Linked DNA regions of Homo sapiens. The protein of the gene in region 3 purifies or fractionates together with the protein of the main gene of each other region. This does not show direct contact. Each region holds a gene or a part of one and is shown on either strand. Other genes may lie near its edges.

The links. The genes of interacting proteins can lie anywhere in the genome.
Region 1: the proteins of NDP (region 3) and CACNA2D2 purify together in Homo sapiens (affinity purification with mass spectrometry; one large-scale study listed by BioGRID and IntAct). This does not show direct contact.
Region 2: the proteins of NDP (region 3) and CTBS purify together in Homo sapiens (affinity purification with mass spectrometry; one large-scale study listed by BioGRID and IntAct). This does not show direct contact.
Region 4: the proteins of NDP (region 3) and CACNA2D1 purify together in Homo sapiens (affinity purification with mass spectrometry; one large-scale study listed by BioGRID and IntAct). This does not show direct contact.

What each region holds. Positions count from the first base shown.
Region 1 is NC_000003.12:50,376,821-50,382,173, forward strand, and holds part of CACNA2D2 (voltage-dependent calcium channel subunit alpha-2/delta-2 isoform b precursor), read right to left. Parts: intron 4,307-5,353; coding exon 4,175-4,306; intron 3,986-4,174; coding exon 3,928-3,985; intron 3,199-3,927; coding exon 3,148-3,198; intron 3,005-3,147; coding exon 2,905-3,004; intron 2,771-2,904; coding exon 2,612-2,770; intron 2,380-2,611; coding exon 2,272-2,379; intron 2,174-2,271; coding exon 2,095-2,173; intron 1,514-2,094; coding exon 1,464-1,513; intron 1,278-1,463; coding exon 1,188-1,277; intron 984-1,187; coding exon 912-983; intron 722-911; coding exon 647-721; intron 1-646. UniProt on the Homo sapiens protein: The alpha-2/delta subunit of voltage-dependent calcium channels regulates calcium current density and activation/inactivation kinetics of the calcium channel.
Region 2 is NC_000001.11:84,559,627-84,564,979, forward strand, and holds part of CTBS (di-N-acetylchitobiase precursor), read right to left. Parts: intron 4,207-5,353; coding exon 4,109-4,206; intron 3,793-4,108; coding exon 3,631-3,792; intron 1-3,630. UniProt on the Homo sapiens protein: Involved in the degradation of asparagine-linked glycoproteins. Hydrolyze of N-acetyl-beta-D-glucosamine (1-4)N-acetylglucosamine chitobiose core from the reducing end of the bond, it requires prior cleavage by glycosylasparaginase.
Region 3 is NC_000023.11:43,965,794-43,971,146, forward strand, and holds part of NDP (norrin precursor), read right to left. Parts: intron 3,828-5,353; exon of another isoform or gene 3,667-3,827; intron 1-3,666. UniProt on the Homo sapiens protein: Activates the canonical Wnt signaling pathway through FZD4 and LRP5 coreceptor.
Region 4 is NC_000007.14:81,956,464-81,961,816, reverse strand, and holds part of CACNA2D1 (voltage-dependent calcium channel subunit alpha-2/delta-1 isoform 1 preproprotein), read left to right. Parts: intron 1-1,987; coding exon 1,988-2,097; intron 2,098-2,459; coding exon 2,460-2,542; intron 2,543-4,268; coding exon of another isoform or gene 4,269-4,385; exon of another isoform or gene 4,386-4,772; intron 4,773-5,353. UniProt on the Homo sapiens protein: The alpha-2/delta subunit of voltage-dependent calcium channels regulates calcium current density and activation/inactivation kinetics of the calcium channel. Plays an important role in excitation-contraction coupling.

The DNA of each region.
Region 1 (5,353 bases), on a different chromosome or scaffold from region 3:
GCCAAGATGCAGACTCCCTGACCGCAGGCGCTGGGCCAGCCACAATGCCATCTTGCCCCTACCCTGGTTTATGATTGTTTTTCACCTTTGGGCCCTTGGCCAGAGAATTCCCTCTGCCTCCAATGTACGCCATCCCCTCCTTTCCTTTCTGCCTGGGACACTCCTGCCTATGTGCATGGGCCAGGTCTGGCCTGCTGCCCATTACTATGTGGCCATGAGCTAAGAATGGTTTTATGTTTTTAAATGGCTGGAAAAAACATCAAAGGAAGAATTCTATTTTGTGACATGTGAAAATTATCTGAAATTCAAATATCAGTATCCACAAATAAAATTAAATTGGAACATAGCCATGCCCATTGTTTATGTTTTGTTTGTGGCTGCTTTCACAATACAACAGTGCAACCGAGTAAGAGATGGGTATGTAGGTCTGCAAAGCCTAAAATATTCAGTCTGGCCCTTTACAGAAAGTTTGCCAACCCAAGGTCACCTTGTTCTAGACCCAAGGTCACCTCCTGGGGAAGCCTTCCCCGACCCCTGAACTCAGAGGTCTCCATGGAGGCGCTGTAATACCCATCAGTCTTCTCTGCTGAGCCTGCCTGTGTCCACATGGGAGGCAGGGTACGCGGATGGGCAGGGGGATGCTCACCGTGTAGTTGGGGGTCAGCCTCTTGATGTCATTCAGAGCCACGTCAATGCCCATCACGCCCAGGATCAGCTGGTTCTGGGAGCAGAAGCATGGGGGGCTCCTCAGTGAGCTCAATTCCATGGGGAACCACCCTCCACAAGGCCTCAAGCTGCTCTCACAGGCAGTGTGCAGGCCTGCCCTGCCCCTCTTCCACCCTCAGACCTGCTGTGGGCATGCCCATTCCTCCCCAGGCACACCCATAGCCCCAACCCTCCCCTTTCCTCACCTTCTTTTCCCCAGGGCCATCCTGTGTCAGGTTGAAAACAGGGAGGGTCCCTGTTACCACCAACCCCAGTCCCTGAAGGGAGAGGAAGATGATGGAGTCACCTGTGGCCAGCACTGACCCCACCCTGAGTGTTCAGAGCAGGGACTGAGGTGCAGGCCACCTCTTTCTCCTGTGCTTGGTTTACCCCATAAGGGGGCCCTCCAGGGTCTTGACCCTGTGGGCACATCTCCGGGGGAAGGGTGCCAGCCCCACCCCTTCCTTGTCCAGAGGCCTTACCAGTGCATCCTCATACACGTTGGTCCACTGCACCTGCTTGGCCTCCTTGCCTGCCAGCACCATGGGCCTGCCCAACACATCTAGATATTCCTGGGGAGGGGGCAGTGGTGGGGGTAATGAGTGCCTTTCCCAGGCACTGCCTGTTCTGTCTCGCCAGGCATTGGGATTGTGCCCCAGCCACTGTGAGGGGGCGCCCTTGGCCCACAGCAGCCCATGGCACACAGCGTCCCTGCAGGGAAGCCAGGGGCTGGGAGGAGGGGCCTCCCCAAGTCTCACCTGTGTGTTGATGCGGATGGCTCCGATGGAAGGGATCTCAAAATAGTAGCCTGTGAAGGAAGGAGAGGCAGAGGTGGGCCTGGCTGGCACTGCAGGATCCATGTGCAGAGGGCCCTGCCCCTGGGGTGTGTCTGCAGCCCTGCCTCGCCTCTTGGGCTCCTCTCTTTTTGGGGTCCTCTCCCTCTAGTGCTCCCGGCCTCTGCCCTGCCAAGGGCGGTGCTATGGAGAGGGAGTGAGTGCAGCAGTATCAGGAAGCAGAGCAGGGGGCAGAGATGGGGAGGGAGGAGCCTGAGGTCTGAGGTCCCTCATTTTAGGGTGCAATGCCATTCAAAGTCCACCCGGCAGCCAGGCCCAAGTGCACAGAGAGATGGACGGATCAGCAAACAGACGCAGGAGTAGACAAGCTGGGGGACGGTTGGACAATGGACAGACAGACGGGCAAAAAGAGGCTCAGTTAGGTGGACCCGTTAGCCCCCAGATAGAGTGAGGGACAGCCTCGTGGATGGGAGGAGGCACACTGTCTTGCAGCGGGTGAACACACAGCTGGACATATGGATGGCCAGTTGAACATACGCAATCGACAAAAAGAAATGGCAGGCAGGCCCCTGACAGTGATGCGCAGGGGAGGTACCTTTGTTGGCACAGGCCATCCACTGCAGCGGTGTGACGTCATAGTTATGCTGCCCCACGGAGAAAGTAAACACGCGCACCTGTGGGGGGTTTGAGGTTACTGCTGTGGCCACCAGGGGACAGCCCTCTTCTGTACTGGGCCCAGGTCAGGGTAGCCCCTGCCTCGGTTGAGCCTCACCGTCCGGTTTGGCCAATTGTACTTCTCAAAGACGTCCTGCACGCGGTCCTCACCACCATCCGTGAACATCATGATCATCTTGTTGCAGTTGGCCCGAGTGATGTTGGACTGAGGGGAGTGAGGCGGAGGCAGGCAGCTCTCAGCCCTCCCTGGTCCAGGGGCAGGGCCTCCCTCCCGCAGTGGGCCTGGACCTCTGGCCCTCCTCCCCCACAGCAGATGGAGCTATCTGTCCAAGCTGCCTGTTTGGTGCTAACGAGGCCATCCGTCTTGATTTCCTGGGTACACCAAGCCAGGGCCCTCTACTCCCCCAGCCGCCCACTTGCCCACCCATGGGGCTCACGTTCTGCAGCTGGTCAAAGGCATACTCAAAGCCGGCCTTGTAGCCTGTGGTGCCCTTGGCCACCATGCCCTGCACAGCTTCCTTGAACACCTTCTTGTTGCGCACATTGGCCTGCACCAGGTGTGTGAAGCATGACACAGGCTGTGCCTTCTCGTTGAACTGCAGGAACAGTAGGGTGGTGAGTGGCCTCAGGCTGGCCGGGGTAGGCAGCTATTGCATGGGGCTGGTGATGGTCACAGGAGCAGGGCAGATGGGGTGACCCATTTCACCCCGTCTGCCACCTTGGCACTCACCGAGGCCACATTCACATAGTCATCATCAGACAGCGTGTCCAGCATCTCGCAGACAGATGTCTTCATCAGCTTCAGGGTCAGGCCGCTCACACTGCCACTCCTGGAGAGGTCAGGCAGGGGACGTGGAGGAGCCAGGGGAACCTCACGTGTTCTCCTGCCCATCCCCCAAGATGTTCAGGGCAGCAGAGTCTAGCCCATTGCCCGTCCCTGCCCCAGCCCCACTTGCCAGCACTGCTCACTCACACATCCACGATGATGACCATGTCTTTGGGTGACGAGGCCCCCTGGATATACCTGCCCAGGAGATGCCTCTGTTAGGGTAAGGCCCACTGGGACCTTGTGGGTCCTTCCTTCCTTCACATACATATTGATTCAATACATTTCTCTTGAGCATGCACTGTGTGGGCCAGGCAGGGTTCTATGCACCGATGATACCACATTTAACGAAACAGACACAGTCCTTGCCCATGACATGAATGGTCTGGTTCCTCAGCAAGGAAAAAGTACCAGGGGGTATATGAGCAGGTGATCCCCAGAGGGGGCAGGAGCCACATTCCCTGGCTTCAGTGGCTTGTTGTGTCCTCTGCCTCAGGTTGGGGCCCCGAGGGCACAGTCTAGCTGTGTATGGGATGGTGCAGGTGGCAGGGAAGGAGAGTCACAGGGAGCTGCCGGAGGGGCAGAACAGAGGGGAGGGATATCTGGGGCTCAGACGGGTGGGGCAGGGACTGGCCAACCCTACAGAGGCTACATCTGCCTTTGGGGACCCCTTCTGGTCCAATCTCCCTTCCAATCTCTCAGTCCTGAGTGGGTGGGGGTGCTGGGCAGTGGACGGGGGGCATGGCAGCTGGGAGGCCTGCCTGGGTGATGGGATCCATTTTCCAGTGGCAACCATGTGTGAAATGAAAATTGGATACAGCTGGCTGCGCCCTGCTAGGAGGCTTGGAAATGGGGAGGGAGGGGAGCAGGCAGGAAAGGTGGGGAACTGAGGGGGTGTCCCTCCCCAGCCCCTTCTTGCTCGCTCACCAGGGTCTCCTTCGGACATCGTACAGGTCGATCTTCTTGGGGGCTCGCCACGGGGTGGCTGAGGGAGGAGAGAAGGTGAGGGGGACTGGCAGGAAAGGGCTGGCCTGGGTAGGCAGACCTTGCAGAGGCGACTGGGCTGCCACAGACTACAGAGAAGCCACCCCGCCCCATGCCCCCAGGATGGGTGGGCTGGTAGATGGAGAAAGGCGAGGTGCTGGGTAGACAGGGGACAGGGGCTGGTACCTACCCGGGTAGTAGCGAGTGACTCCTGTGGCGCTGCCGAAGACCTGCCACAGCAGTGTGGGGTCTTGTCTGCGGTTTTCCATGAACACATTCTCCAGGGCCTCTGTCCAGTTGAGCTCATTGAGGATGACAGTGGCTGGGGGGAAGCGGGGAGCTGGGGTGGGGAGCACCTGGGCTGTGTCCTGTCGAACCCACCACCACGACACTCATGCCTGTGCCCCCATTTAGAATCCCCCAACTGTTCTCGGCCTATCCAGGCCCTCCCTATTTCCTAGGGCCCAGCTGGGGCTGCCCCAGCTCCTCCAGGAAGACTTTCTGATCCTCACCCCTCCCAAGCTGTGAAAGGAACAGTTCAGCCTACTCTTCCTCCAGGTCCCACATGAGCAGGCAGGGCAGCTGTGGCTGGTAGCCTCTGGAGAGGGGCTGCCCAGGTGGCTGGGTGCTGGGAACTCGGAGCCCTCAGTCCAGCATGCTGCCTGGAGCTAGCACTGGTCCCCCAGGAGCTCACCCATTCAGCATGCACTCCAGGCTTCAGCCACAAGAAAGCAATTAAGGGCCTGCTGATGGGGCTGGAATTATTCAGCTATTAAGTTACCTGATAAGCTGGAAGCCACTCAGCTCCATGATTAATCAACTGGGGCCAGAAGCAAGCAGGGGTGGGGGCGGGGGCTCTTGGAGGGGCAGGGGCATGCCAGATCCTGCTTCAACACAGGCAAGTGTACTTGTACACGCATGCGCACACTGCACACCCCCCAACAGGTATACCTGTGTCTAACCTGTGTGTTTCCAGCCAGATGGAACCCACCTGCCTAGCACCCCAGCTGCCACCATGGGCACAAGGGCACACACGTTCATGCCTACACACCACTCTGCACCTACAGGGGACACTCATGGGTCCTGCTCACAACCCCCTACCATCAGTTACCCCATTCTCCCTTCCCCCCAACCCTTGTAGTTGCACGTGTGTGATCCCCTGTCCAGATCTATCCCTACACACACACACACACACACACACACACACACACACACACAAACAAGGCTCCTCTCAGAGAATGGACTCCAATCCTGCGGACCCTTCAACCTGGGCAGAGATCCAGGATGGTTTGAGCAGTACCCTCGACCCCCAACTCGGGGCGGCCTGATGTGTGTGTGTGACACATGTTCTCATGTGTGCAGTGACCCT
Region 2 (5,353 bases), on a different chromosome or scaffold from region 3:
AAAAAGACTTAATAACGATATTGAAATTAGACTAATAACCTTACAATGGGAATTTTGCAATGAATAAAAAAGAGGAAGAAAATAGTTATAATTAGATTGTTTTCTGAAGTGACATTAAATGGCCTTCAAGGCTCACCAAAATGTTTCCTGAATTCTAAGAGCTTAAACAATGTGTTGGCCAGGTGCAGTGGCCCATGCGTGTAATCCCAGGCCTTTGGGAGGCCAAGGTAGGCGGATCACTTGAGGTCAGGAGTTTGAGACCAGACTGGCCTACATAGTGAAACCCCATCTCTACTAAAAATATAAAAATTAGCCCGGCATAGTGGCGGGCACCTGTAATCCCACCTATGGGGGAAGCTGAGGAGTAGAATTGCTTGAACCCAGGAGGCAGAGGGTGCAGTGAACCCAGAGGGCGCCACTGCACTACAGCCTGGGCGACAGAGCAAGACTCTGTCTCAAAAAAAAAAAAAAAAAGAAAGAAAGAAAGAAAGAAAGAAAGAAAGAAAGGAAAGAAAGAAAGAAAGAGAAACTAGAATCCCTCTTCCCTAAAATGGGTCATAGAAACTAGAGCCTCTTTTCCCCAAAACCAGCCATAAAGTCTAAAAATGTTACTCTAACCTTTCCCACCACCACCTTTCTGTGTAATAGCTGGCCATAAAGAAATTAAGACCCTCATTCCAGAGAGGTCCTACCCCATACCCATGAGAAGAAATCCTTCACAGAGAGGCCAAGAAAAATCTGAACAGACAGTCCTTGCTGAGTTTTCCCACTCAGTCTGTTTGCATTAGCTCATGCCCTTTATTCTGATCACAGTTCTACATAGCTGTCCATACTTCGTTGAACCTAAGCACAAAAATGGACAGTTTTTCCTGTATCTTTGGGTTTTCATTCTGAAACCTCCCATGTCGGGTAAAATTATGATCAAACACATTTTAAAAGGCAGAGACCCCTTTCTTCAAATAAATCTTATATTGGAAGAAGATGATGCCATTTAAGACTTTGCTAGCTAGACAGGAGAAGTCAATACCTGGCTTTAAAGCTCAAAGTACAGGCTGATTCTCTTGTTAGGGACTAATGAGGGTGGTAACTTTAAGTTGAAGCCAGTGTTCATTTACCATTCCAAAAATCCTATGGCACTTAAGAATTATGCTAAATTGACTCTGCCTGTGATCTATAAATGGAATAACAAAGCCTGGCTCACAGCACATCTGTTTACTGAATATCTTAAGCCCACTGCTGAGATGTACTAAGAAAAAAAAGAGATTTCTTTCAAAATATTACTGCTCATTGACAATGCACTTGGTCACCCAAGAGCTCTGATGGAGAACACAAGATGAATGTTATTTTCATGCCTGCTAACACAACATCCATTCTGCAGCCCATGGAACAAGGAGTAATTTCAACTTTTAACTCTTATTAATTAAGAAATAGATTTTGTAAGGCTGTAGCAGCCAAAGACAGTAACTCCTTTCATGGATCTGGCCAAAGTAAACTGAAAGCTTTTTGGAAAGGATTCACCATTCTAGATGCCATTAAGAACATTCATGATTCATGCATGGGAGGAGGTCAAAATATCAACATTAACAGGAGTTTGGAAGAAGTGGGTTACAACCCTCATGGATGACATTGAGGGGTTCAAGACTTCAGTGAAGGAAGTAACTGCAGAGGTAGTGGAAACAGCAAGAGAATTAGAATTGGAGGTGAATCCTAAATATGTGACTCAATTGCTACAATCTCGTGATAAAATTTGAATAGATGAGGAGCTACTTCTTATGAATACGCAAAGAAAGTAGTTTCTTGAGAATGGAATCTATTCCTGGTAAAATGCTGTGAACATTGTTCAAATAACAGCAAAGGATTTAGAATATTCTATAAACTTATTAATAAAGCAGCAGCAGAGTTTGATGGGGTTGACTCCAATTTTGAAAGAAGTTCTACTGTGGGTAAAATGCAATCAAATAGCATCACGTTTTACACAGAAATCTTTCGTGAAAGGAAGAGTCAATTGACGTGGCAAACTTCACTGTTGTCTTATTTTAAGAAATTGCCATAGCCACCCCAACCTTCAGCAACCACCACCCTGATCAGTCAGCAGCCATCAATGACAAGGCAAGACACTCTTCCAGCAAGCAGGTTATAACTTGATAAAGGCTCAGATGATCGTTATCATTTTTTTAGCAATAAAGTATTTTTAAATTAAGGTATGTACTTTTTTTAGACATAATGCTATTACACACTTAACAGACTACAGTATAGTATAAACATAACTTTTATATGCACAGGGAAACAAAAAATTCATGTCACTTGCTTTATTGCTATATTTACTTTATTGTGGTGGTCTAGAACTGACTCTGCAATATCTCTAAGGTATGCCTGTATATGTAATTGGTTACCATAACTTTTAACAAACCATATCCATGAAACAGTTTCTAAGAACTGCATGTTTCTAAGAATGCTGTGAAACAAGATTATATGTCAAACAATTAAACTACCTTATGTATTACAGCACTTCTCAAACCCATTAATATAATTGTTGTTACAAATCTCCAAGAGGGGCGTACAGTATATAGTGTTTTTCTAAATATATTTGGCCATGGCACACGTGTGTATATTTTGCACACATGTGCATCTGTGTGTGTAATATTAACAGTTCCCAGGACAGACTAATATAAACACTGTTTAGGAAAGATAAGATTACAATACACTCTAGTTTCACTAATAGGTATATACTTTCAGTTCCAAAGTTTAGAAAGCTCTACACTAAAGCTCTCTGTGGAGGCATACACATGTATATCAATTATAATTTATGACATGTAGTGTGTTTGCAGTCATTTTTTTATAAATGGGTACCAGACCATTAATTAAGCATATAAATCCTTGCTGAACTTCACTTATATCATTTTAGTACTCCTTTTAAAGTAACATAATCTGAAATAAATTCAAAGAGGATTTGTACTTAGATTTTTGAGCTGTGGAAGAGCCTTTATAATGCTAAAGGTAAATTATGAAAACTGTAACTTTTCTTTGCCATTTTGGTATAGCAATTCCTATTAAACACTACTTGACAGAATTGCTAATCACTTAGTGTATTTCTTCAGGTTTCCTTTATGTAATATTTTTGTAAGTTTTGACATTGCTTTATAATTTAATTATAAAATAAATTGAAAATGATAGTTTTTCCATTGTAAAGTCGATTATGACACCTCTTCTGTTCTCAGCCTCATTCCTCCCTATGTAAGTCTCATCAGAATCTGTAGGCCACTTTGAAATGGAGGCTTTCAGAGATAGTAACTTATTTTGGCCCAAAACCCATTCAAAATCAACAGTCATCCTAACATAATTGTCAACTGTTACAGAAATCCTGTTTGTGATATGCACATTTTTATGGCATCATCTAAATGACAAGTGGCCCAAGCAGAGTAGATTCACCATTAGCAAAACTCCAATTGCTCGCCAGGGAACTAAAGTTCCTGATTACAGATTCAAAGACAAGTTTACTCATGTAAATAGCAGTCTGCATGTTATGCCCTAAAAGAAAACTGATAGAAATTCTTGATATCAAACATCTAATTATGAAAATAATTACAAAAACTAATAGAATAAATGCTCATAACTTACGAAAAGTCTTACTTTATAGTTATAATAAGGAGCCCGCTGATCTTTATCCCATAGGTTTCCAGAAATAGAACTATTTATTTGCTTCATGATCGTTTTGTAGGGCACCTGACGTCCTGCAGCGTCACTACAAGGAGCCCCCCGGAAAGGGACTTTTGCAATGGTACAAACATGATCCTAGAAATGCAAAAGTGCTCATGTTATATATTATCAATTATGCAATTCTTAAAAGCCAAACCAAAAATATATAAATTATTTAGAAATAAAACATATACCATAGAAAACCTGACTATACAGAAAAAAGGTTAAAATAAATTTCATTATTAAATGAAAATGTATGATAATCATAAGCTTTCATAGAAGTAAAAATAAATAATTTTTATCTCAAACTATATTTCAGAGATTCTAAAGTTTATATATTTCTAATGAAAACAGAGAGACTCTAAAAAATATAATAGATAATAAAAATTATGTAACAAATGACTGTTCCTACCTCAGACAGATTCAGGCAGGTATAATCATAACCATACCAAGGAACACCCATTACAAGTTTCTTAGGATTAATGCTCATCTTGATGTAGTCATTATATCCTAGTCAAGCAGGAGAGAAAAAGCATATTTGTTTCTCTTCATATGTCAATGTGTTCATACAAGCTATGCAACCGTTCAGAATCTGTTTGTAAAAACAAGTACATTTATAAAAAACACTAATATTGTTTAATATGTTATAAAACATCCCTTAAGAACCATAAATTCTATATCTTGCTTTCTAAACCATTTCTCTTTGAATAGGAGAAAACATTCAAAACAATTAAGATCATACTGAAATAAAATATTCACAAAATCTAATTCTAGGAAGAATGACACATTTCAGGAAAGTATGCTAATTATATCTATTAATTCTAAGATATGATATACTTGATACTCTAGATTCTAAAGTTTCAAAAAAGTTTTATAAATCTTAACTTTCTAGCAGTGATGGTCTCAGAGTTTCTTAGAAAGTACAAGTGTTCCATGTTTTGCAAATATTCTGTAAGTAAGCTGGGGATAAGAAATGTGTCATCTATAGTGGGAGGAAACAAAGAGAAAAATGAACAAATCCCTGGAACTATCAGTCCTTTTCTTGCCCAATGCTGCAAAACATGTTTTTCCACCAAGACATATTCACAGATTACCTAGAATGTTCAGCTAAAAAACTTTATTACTTTTTAGAGCCTTTAATGTTATTATGTACTATTAAATAACCAAAAATGGGGTGGGGTATGTATCAGTTCCCAAACATATTGGTTTATTTAGTTTGGTTGTTGATTTATTTATGATACAAAGTATCCCTATGTTGCTCAGGCTGGCTTGAACTTCGGCCTCATGTGATCTTCCCACCTCAGCCTCCCAAGGCTTGAACCTTTTATTGATAGAACATAATTATAATGTCTTGCCTGAAACACAGTTTGGGAACCCTCAATTAATAATTACTTCGTAATTTTAACAGAATAAGTTATTTTTCAACTTTAAATAGGTATGTGGCTAGGCACAATGGCTCATGCCTGTAATTGAAGCTCTCTGGGAGGCTGAGGTGGGAGGATCACTTGCGGCCAGCCTGGGCAACATAGTATGACTCCATCTCCTTAAAAAAAAAATCTTTTTTAAATTAGCTGGGCATGGTGGTGCATGCCTGTATACCCAGCTACTCAGGGGGCTGAGGTTGGGGGATCACTTAAGCCCAGGAGGTCGAGGTTAC
Region 3 (5,353 bases):
AGTAGTCTTGGGGTCAAGAGCGAGGCCCTGTGCTTGGTAAAGTATCTACTACAGAGCTTCTCTGCTAGGGGAGGTACATTCCAGAAGCCCTGGGCTGAGACTTACGTCTAAAAGAGTTGACCACTTGGTATGGCACTTGGATCCTGTGCTGAGTATCTGTGGGCTTCTATGGCCCACAGATAATCAGAAAAGAGTCATTCTGAAGAATGGAAAGACTCATTCTGAGTTTTTAACAGTTGACATAACTAATTGACTTTTAGAATACAAATCTTGCATAAATTGGAAATGACCAAGTCAGGTTACCCAAGTGTCAGGAGGTACTTTTCTGTTGAAGTCTTTTCCTCTAGGGATTTGATTATTTCTGTAAATCCAGCTACCCAAATAAAAGCTGTGACTGAGATGGGGATGAGCTGTCAGAAAATGCTTAGGGGTGGCCTTTCTATAGTGCCACAAATCAACAGTAGCCCTAAACACAGAGTCCTCTTCTATCCTTTCTTCAATGGGGAATTAAAGTAGGGAGAGAGCAGGTCATGGGAGAAGTAACAAAAGAGGAGGAGGAGGAGGAAGGATTCATTTTGAAGTTCAAAATCTGCCACTGCCCTTTCAATTTTTTCAAATAGCACAATTTCAGTCAGGGAAGGATCCCTTCATTTCACCCACTCCCTCCCAGGAAGGGGATTTTTTATGAGGAATGAGACACACTCTACTGCTCACCTTACATAAGACCCTTTAGAAGGAAAATAGGAGAGTTCCGAGACACCCAACTCAGAGGACTCAGTCTTGCCAAAATGCATGAATGTACATTCTCCCTGTGGAAAAGAAAAGGTGCCAGGTGTTCTGGGGATACCTGTGCTGAAACAACTAAACACTTGTTCTGCTGCTGTACTGCTGGCTGTGGTATGGCCTCAGGAGGAGAGGTGACCAATGTTAGCTCAGGGTACAGGCTCTCTTTTACCCTAGAGCCAAATGAGCATGTTGGCCTTTCTTCAAAGAGTGCAGCAAAGTGTTTCCAAAGCTGCGTTTGAACCTCCTCACCCGCAACAACACTTTGGAATGGTGGGTAGTGATCTCACCTAACAGCTGTAGAGCCCTTAGTTAGGAATGGGGCATAAACAATAGGAGCAACTCAGTCTTTCCATTCCCCATTCAATTTGCCTTTTCTGCCCAATGGTGGGATTTGAATACTGAATTCAATCCCGTTGCAATCCGGAATGCTCCTAGACTCAGACATATGTCAAAGGGGCAAGGTTCTCATAAAAATCACATAAAAATACGTGTCCCTATATTGCTGATAACCCTGAACTTGTTGGGGTGGTGGTTTTCTGCTTGTCTTGATTTGCTTAAACCATGCATGCTGCAGCTATGTCTATGTCTTTTGACTGCCAGCTTCCCTGTAACAATACTATTCTGCTGCCTTTGGATTCCACATCTCAAAAGAAAAATTTAAATTCTGAAAAGGAGTAATTTTTCATAATTTGGTGGGGGGCAGTGAAATCACAGCAATGCAATGAGCCCTAAAATATCCTCTCAAGTTTTAAAGAAAAATTGGACTTTGATTAAGGATTGGATTTCTTTGATTCTTTACATCCTTTATAGTTTGTGGATACAAATTATATTTGTACCCACATAATTAGGTACAAATGTGTGTACCTCCATTTTACTTCGAGTTGAAGATAGGGGATGTTTTTTCACTTGAGGAGTTGACCTCCTTTTCAGGTAAAGACAGCAACTTCAAACACCTTCCTGGGAGGGAGAGTGGGTGAAATAAAGGGATCCTTCCCTTTCTGAAATTGTGATATTTGAAAATATTGAAAGGGCAGCAGCAGATTTTGAACATCAAAAATAATCCTTCTTACTTCTCTTTTGTTACTTCTCCCCTGACCTGCTCTCTCCCTATTTTTATTCCCTACTGATGAAAGGATGGAAGAGGACTCCACGTTTAGGGCTGTTGTTGGTTTGTGGCACTGTAGAAAGGCCACCCTTGAGCATTTTCTGACAGCTTATCAACTTTCTTGAATGTCTTAGCCTGTTGCCCTTTCATTTTTAAAGGATACTGCAATTGGTTGGATCATGGCTTAAAAGAAAAAGTTGGGATTGATCCAGGCCTTGGAAGAGAGCAAATTGTCTGAAAAATTCTTAGCTTTTGTGGAAAAAAAAAAGAAAAAAGAAAAGACAAAAATGTTATCTGTTGCAAATCTTATACCCAGTTTAAAGCTACTAGTCAATGTTTATGTCCAGATTTTGCCATGAGGGTGAAATGGACCCCAACTGGATGAATTCCTGATTATGAGCACTGGGGATATGTCGCCAACGGAAGTTACCCATTCTTTGAATTTTCTGAGTCAGCACTCTTCCTAACAAGAAAGTAGTTGCTTCAGATTGCAAACCCCATCCAGGGTTTCACGTTCTTACTGTTGAAAATGGGTCTGGGGGTAAGACTCTAGTGACATATCCTTGACCATCAGGCTCTGAGAACCTCTGATGAAGGGGACAGTGCACATGAATGGTGACAAGCAAATGACTGCCAGAGACACAAGAAAAAAGCTTTGCAGATGCAAGGGAAGCTGGCATCAGAAATAATGCCATCGGCACAATCTTCCTCAACAACTCAACTGTGTGGGTGTGTGAATTTGCAGCATGCAACCTGCACAGCCAAGAGAGTACTGATTCCAGTTCCAGCCTCCCCTGCCCTGCTGCACACACATAGGGGTTTCGGAAGGATTTCCCACCCTTTGTTTTCTCCTGAAATTAAACACAGAAGTTCATGATTGCTGACCTGATGGGCGAGGAGTGGATACTACCAGCTGGAACATTGCCACTGGCAGGGGCAGACAAGAAAACAGGAATGCTCTTAATGTCCTCCCAAAGAAAACCTTTGATGGACAAAAGAGTGGTTGTATTTTTACCCTCTCCCTTCATGCTGCCAGGCGTCTTTAAATAGATCCTCTAGCCTAGGGACTTGTATGGAATAATTCATATTAAAACCCAAGAAGTGGTAGTGGAGGGGAATTGGTTCTTTCTTCTCTTTCTTTCCCTTTCTTCCTTTCTTTTTTTCTTCTTGTCAGGCTAACAGGGAAAGACTCATTTTAATTCAGCTGCTTTAAATTTTTCCTTTTGGGTCCTTTAATGAATTTTAGCTAATTTGAAAAAGACGACCAAAGCCCCCAGAAAAAGAAAAGGAATAGGAAGCCGCCTGGTGGCTTGCTGTTTAATACCTTTTGGTCCCAGGGACATTAGCAGCATCTTTTAAGGATGTCACAGGGAGGTTTACATTGAGGCTCTTAAATGGGAATCTCTAATTGAGAGGTCCACTTCCTTCCATTTGCAACTCATCAACGAAACTGTTGTTCTGCTCTTAAGAGACAGAAAGAAAGAAAGAAAAAATCCCGCCCCATCTCCAAAGCCCCATGCATTTTTTAGTTCGGATCAACCCAGAATATATTTCTCCCCTCTTTCTTTCACTAAATGGGTTTCATAAAGACATTCGGGTCTGTGCTGGCCAAATTAGAAGTCCTGTCTCTCTTTCTTTCTGTTTGGGGAGGGAGGGATGTGGGAAGGACAGACCGGGAAAGGGGGCAGGGAAGGGGCCAAGGATCCAGAGGGCTTTGTTTCAAGCCGCTTGTCTCTCCCCCGAAACAGAGAATAACCACATTTCTCTTAATGTAGGCCGAAGTGCATCCAGGCATTCCCATAGCGCTCCCACCCCAAGGCCTTTGCCGGAGATGTTCGGGTCACTGTGATGGTATGCTCGTTCCTGCCAACCCGGTCACTCCAGCCCCGCTCTCGGCAGCCCAAAGGGCAGCTAAGCCATGTGGCTGCTCCTCTCTGTGAGTGGATTCAGGCTCGGGACTACAAAAAGCCCCCCAGTCCTATCAGCCCGGCAGAGCTGGTGCCAAGAATGACATCCTGGGAATACTATGGAGATGGGGAGATCCCATGGGCTGTTCTCCCCGGATGGAACAGGACCCAAGCTGTCTGGAAAACAGGCAGAGCAAAGAGCCAGCTGACAAAGGAAGGAGCTCAGGCGAAGGGAAAAGGGGGCGGGCTGGGAGCAGTGGTGAGCAAAAGAAAAGAAAAGCCACATGCCACCCAGGAAGATTCCAGGACTGGCGGGAGGAGGTGGAGGAGGAAGGACTTGCAGGAAACAAGTACCCAGACATGGCACTGCCAGTCTAGCTGGATTCTTTTCTGAATTAGATTATGCGAAAGAAAGAAGGGAAATATATAGCCAGCCAGCTGTTCAAAGGCTTACAACCTTGCTTTTATTGTCCGGGTAAGTTGGTGAGGTGGGGCATCAGAGGAATTCCAAACATACCATCCCAGAGAAATTTTAATATGTTCCACAGTGTCATACACAAAGAGGAAATGACAGCTGATCACAGCCAGGGCAGGCCACAGCAACCCAGGCCCTGGAGCTCACCCACCCTGTCTCACAGCCCTGCTTCCCCGCTCTGCCTTAGCACTTCACAGTCTGTCCACCTGCCTTCCCATCCCCTCTGCTCCCACTGGCTGCTGGCCTAGTGCAGAGGGCCTGGGCAAAGAAGCAGTCACTGGCCGTCATGGGAAGAGGTGAGGATGGGCTCGAAGGCCGCTGGCCAAGAAGCTGAGGGCTGGCTAGGGTGAGTCAGGCACCCCAGGGAGTCAGAGGCATTTTAATCCAACCACGGGGGATTATCTGCTGATAAGGACCAAGTCAAGGACCCTGGTGATGCTGTTTTCAGGGTTTTTTTTTTCCCCCAGTAACCTAAACACGTGATAAAACACCATACTGGGTTATTTGAAAGCAACACTGTGTGGCTATGATGGAGACCTGGGTTTGGGGAAGAGTTTCCAACAGCTTCTTCCCAGGGGCCTCTTGAATTTAGGCCAGGCCCAGAGGTCATTTGTTTTGATACTGGGGGTGGGACAAGTAAGTGGTGAGGGATAGTGACTGCATCTTCCTCCATATGCATGTTTCTAATTCGATGATTCATCAAGTGGCCCTGATGTTAGCTACTGAGTAGGCGACTCACACCCATCCCCAATAGAGACAGCATATGGTCCTTTCCACAGGGTGCTCAGGAGAGCAGAGAAAGGATAAACTACTGTCTTTTTCCGGGATTCTTCTACCCAGGCTGGAAAGATCTAGCCGTGTTAGCTGTGCAAATGACGTGTACCCAGGATCTGGTGAAAAAGGCCAAAGGGGAATCCCTTAATCATAAATGGAAAGAAAACCCACTGATGAGTGAGAATCATTTCAAGTAAATCTAGAAACCAGTAGCTGTTTTAAATAATTCTTTATAACAGGAAAGTTATTGCCCACTTTACCCATTGGCAATGCCCATTTCAGTTCCAAAATCTAACTAGAGATGGC
Region 4 (5,353 bases), on a different chromosome or scaffold from region 3:
ATACTGTTATAATCATTACAGAAAAAACTGAAAATTGTGTTGGAGTCAGAGATGTGAGTAATTGTTTTAAGCTGAAAATGTCAGCAATCTTTAGTTTCTCTGTAGACTTTTAAAATTTGTAATTTTTAAAATTCTAACTTTGATAAGCTGTTATTTCTTCAACTATAATAATTACATGATCAAGATAATTCCTTTCTCTTTAGGCAGAACATAGAGAAATTTGATTATATTTTAACTTTTTTTCCTAAAATAACCCATATTAAAAATTTCTAATATAAAGTTATTAAATATATTAGTAATTTAAATAATTCTAAGCCAAATATTATTTATTTTTCTATATAGTAACTAAACAGATTTACAAAAAAAAAGTCTTGTTTTGTTTTGTTTTTACTTCTAGTCTTCTCTGACTTGAAGAACTGAATGTTATCTTTATTTGAATTTGAAGGAACTGGGAAAAATACAGTTTTTTTAGGTCATGGTTAATGTTAGTCAGTATCCATAAAATATCTTTTAAAAAGAGATGGAGAATTTAATTTTGTTGTAATGAGGGTAGAGGAGAAAGGCAAGATGGGGATTTTGAGGGGAAAGTAATAATTAATGCCACAGGATTCCTGAGAGGAGAGCAGCAAGTCACAGCTTACAAAGCACAGAGTAGAGACACTTTGTTTTTAGAGGTGGAGGGAAGATTATTCTAGAAGAAATGTTACCATAGCGGAAGAAGAAATAGGAGGAGGTGAGGTAATCTGAGATTATGAAAGTGCCAGAATAGTTAAAAAAAAAAATTTTGCAAGAGGGGCTAAGCAACCTATCATGAATTTTTAGGAGACGTGGTCAGTATGTTTTATGACTTTCTTTAGCAGACCTCTATCTCCAAGGAGGAGGTAGAGTATATAAAGAGGAGAGGAAAGGGAAGGAAGAGTCAAGCATGAACTCAGAAAAAAAGCAGACTGTCTTGTTTAGAGGAGATTAGCATATCAGGCTATGGACTTCAGGAAATGGGATTGTGGCATGTTTATTGGATACATCAGAGTTTCACAGACATTGGCCTTTTATTAATTGACATCCAGCAAGAGCAATTGGTGTGCTTAAAGAAGTAAGTTAAATTGTAAAGTGAAGAAGGTCAGTATAACCAAGATGTTAAATTGCATCATACTTTCCTTTTGATTTGCTTTATGGAAATCAAAGCTTAACAGGGCAAAAAGAAAATCCCACTTTTCTGCAAAATGTATAATGATAAAGAAATTACTTTTTTAGTGATATATTTACATTTTTTATGTTGGTTACTAAAGTAAGAGCAGCTTAAGGTGTGGACAAAACAGGGGATGGAATTCAAAACCCTTGATTCTGTCCATGTCTGTGTTGCCCAGTGCAGTAGTTACCACCTATAGGTGGCTATTGAAATTTCAATTACAGTTAAATTAATTAGAATTAAAATTTTGTGCCTCAGTCACACTTGTCACATTTTAAGTGCCCAATACCCTCGAGTGGCTAGTATTTACCATATTGGACAGTGCGAACAACTTTTCCATCTTCACAGAAAGTTTGCTTAATAGCACTGTTCCAGACTTTTCTCTGCCCTTAGGTTGGGCAAGATGCCTAGACATTTTTGTATTCCCTGTTGTGTTATCTGTAAAATAAGGCAACTTTGGCATAAGCATCACAATTCTTTGTATGTGTAAAGAAAAACTTTTTTCTATGTACATCAACAACTAAATTGTGCTTATTTTGCAATGAGGATTAATACTTTAAAATGGTCACACATAAAACATATATTGCAATTTTTTTATTCATTTGACATAGGTAATACGTTCATGCTAATAAATGAAGCATTTTTTTCTTCTAAAATCATACTCCTATTGTGCTGGGAATGGTTTCTGTTTCAGATGTCATATTTTGTCTTTCATTTTAATATGTAAGAATCTTTGAAAGATTTCCATTTATTTTGGAAAAGATACTCATTTTCTATGATACCATATTTATTTTGCAGAATCTTTCATGGAGAAAAGCTTATGAACACCAACTTAATATTCATAATGGTTGAGAGCAAAGGGACATGTCCATGTGACACACGACTGCTCATACAAGCGGAGCAGACTTGTATCCTTTGACATCAGAGCTATCTGGAAAGGAAAACCATCTTAATGCATTTTGAATCTTGTCACATTGTTTATATTCATAAAGAGAAAACTATTAGACTGCTCTGATCACCTCGCAAAGGCAGAATCGATTCCTCACTCAAAATTTGGTTGGAATGTCAAGAATAATTATGCTACACATGCCCCAGAAAAGGATAATTCACAATTTAGTTCTTTAAATCCCTATGTACTTGAATTGTGTTGGATGAGAGTAATGATGTATAAGTTATCTCTCTCACATGTTTTGGGAAATACATTGCATTGTATTTATTTTTAATCATGTGAAAAAAACTAACATGAGATTCCTTAACAAGTCTCTTTTAGCTGACGGTCCAAATCCTTGTGACATGGTTAAGCAACCCAGATACCGAAAAGGGCCTGATGTCTGCTTTGATAACAATGTCTTGGTAAGATCACACTTCTACTGGATTAAAATACTATAAATTAATGGTCACTGTCCGCAAGAATTCAAGGATACAAATTGCAATTTTAACTCAAACGTAATGTCTTAACCATAGTTTTTCTCATTAACATGACATACTTGCTGGTAGATTTTTTTCATTTCAGTAGTTTTCATGGTTAGCATAAACTTGACAGTTGCTTCTTTTATATGTCCTTCCCACAGAAATTGTGCTTTCAAACACAATTCCAATCAATTTAACTCATAGTAAATGTTAATTATGGTATATTTGTTGCCTCCATTTATATTCCAATCCTGAAGATATAAAAGTTAATTTTATTATATTTTTGTTAGTTATATTTGTCTTCAGTGAATTGAAAAACCTGTTATACAGCCATTGTCTTATTATTACAGAGTTCTAGTGTGAATTGAAAAACCTGTTATACAGCCATTGTCTTATTATTACAGAGTTCTAGTTTCTTTTGGATGGTTTCTGATGCTATCACATATTAGACTTCTATTATTTCCTTTAATTGTACTAATTTCTTTTTCTAGTGTTTGAAACTAGACCAGGTCAATTACATAGGGTTTGATAAAATATTACAAATCATATTTAATATATGTCACTTAAAGATGGCTTACTACTTTTCCTATAGTTCAGCTATCTTTCTCTAATAAATACTATTCTGATTTACTGTGTATTGATTATATACAAGGTAGGTAATATGTCATCAGTATGTACTACATTAGCTTTATGCTTTTAAAATTCTTAAGAAATATTAATCTATTCTCAAAGATGAAGTCTACATAAAAATCTCTGTCTACCTCTTTTTAACTAATTTTAAATACAATACTTCCTAATTCTGATTCTTCAGTGTGTGCACACACCAATGAATATCCAAACTTGTAAAGCATTATCTCATAAATTATTTGAGTTATTTAGTTTACCTACTCAAATACATAGCTGCATTTGTCCCAGAAAGGACAAAACATTTTCACAGATAATATTATGCAATTAGATAATATAAATTAAAAATAGCACAAAGAAGTAATAAAATCAGTAATGGGGACTAAAAATGAAAGATGTATTAGCCAGTCAATCCCAGTTATCTCTGTGAGGGATTATTGATCCTTGCTAGGGAGAGTAATTCAACATTGCAACTAAGCGTTTTTTTTTTCTTTTTAAGATATATTAAGTCCAGATAGGCGGACTCCTGTTATTCTGTCTACTGCAACTTCAGCACGTTGCCCATGTAAAATTATTCCCCCAAAGAATGTTTTATGAAGGGCCAAGGGTCATGTCACTCATTAGAGAAACTTCGCTCATCAACTATTTGTCACCAGTTTTTTGACACTAGAAATATTAAATTCAGATGAACTTGAAAAGTGACTTAAAAGCCTATTGCCCAAAATATTATTCTAGGAGGCTATATCTTATGATCAAGCCATTAAAAGGATTTGACCAAGACAAAAATGTTCAGCAATTGAAGCTCCTATAAATGGGTTGTGTGTGAAAGTACAACTGTTGCTCAGTAGCTTGGTGTGCTAATAATATCTTGTGTTTCTTTAGCAGTGGAGTTATTTTGGTAATGCTTATTTGCAATGGTCACTGTGAATCTGCTCTGGATGGAGACTCACGTTAACTGCCAGCAAATTGCATGAAATCTCATCTTGTATGTCTTCTGTGTTTTCTTTCCTTTTCCTATACTTGCTACTTTGCCCGTTATTAATAGGATCAACTTAAGTGCACAACGAGTCGTGCCTGTACCATGATGTCAGCTCCTATCTTCATTTTACTGCAAGTTTTCATGTGGTGTGGATGGTCAGTCACTTTCTCTAATTTTTCTTAGTTTTTGTTTTTGGCTTGAAATTCTAGAAAATCACCCATATTCCTAAATCTGCGATATTAATGTTCCTGAAACCAGGTTATTAAAATCTCAGGACCAATGTTGTTGTTTTGTAAATAGCTGATTTCAAATGGCATGTACATTTCTAATCCTAAATGAAACATATTCAATATTTATGTAAAAATCATTTTTCATAAAGTTTTTGTGTAAAAATTGTCATTACAGAGACAGATATACAGGCTTCATGGTATTTTATGAGAACTACCTAATGACAATTTTTAGAGGTGGTTATCTCAATTTATTTACAAAAGATGCTAACACAAATTTAATGCACTCTTTCAATTCCTTTCAGATTTTTCTACTTTTTAAAATAAATCTGACTTAAATAACTTTTTAGATTTTTTACTCTCAAAATATTCTTATTGAAATATTTTAGAATAAGTGCTTCTAGTTTCTAAGTTCATTTTATTTAATATACATTATCTAGCCCAAAATTATTAATTAACCTTTTAAGAAATTTCTGAGTTCTCTATTCAATACTACTAAAGAGATGTTTTGGGTCTTGGATTTGCATTTAGTTCTTCATTTACTGTTTTGCAATTTCTTTTCTAATGCTCTGGAATCATCATGATGTATTACTAGAGCACGCACTTTCGTTGTGTTTGTCATTGGTTTCCAAGTAGTCATTGATTAGGAAGCCACTAGATGGAGATGTGGCCATTACTATGAATGGAGTGAATTCACAGGCAGGGGTGATAGAGGGTGGGGAGTAGAATAGCAGAGGGAGTCTCAGAAAATAACCACAAGTCTTCTGGCATAATAAAAGAATAGTTTTCATGGCAAAAGACGCCAAAGTAAGGAAACGTTGCTTTAATATCTTCATATACACATTTTAAAAATTGATATATAGGCAATTATTTGAATTATTATTAATTCCTGAAAGAAGTTCATAGGTAGTCAACCATTACACA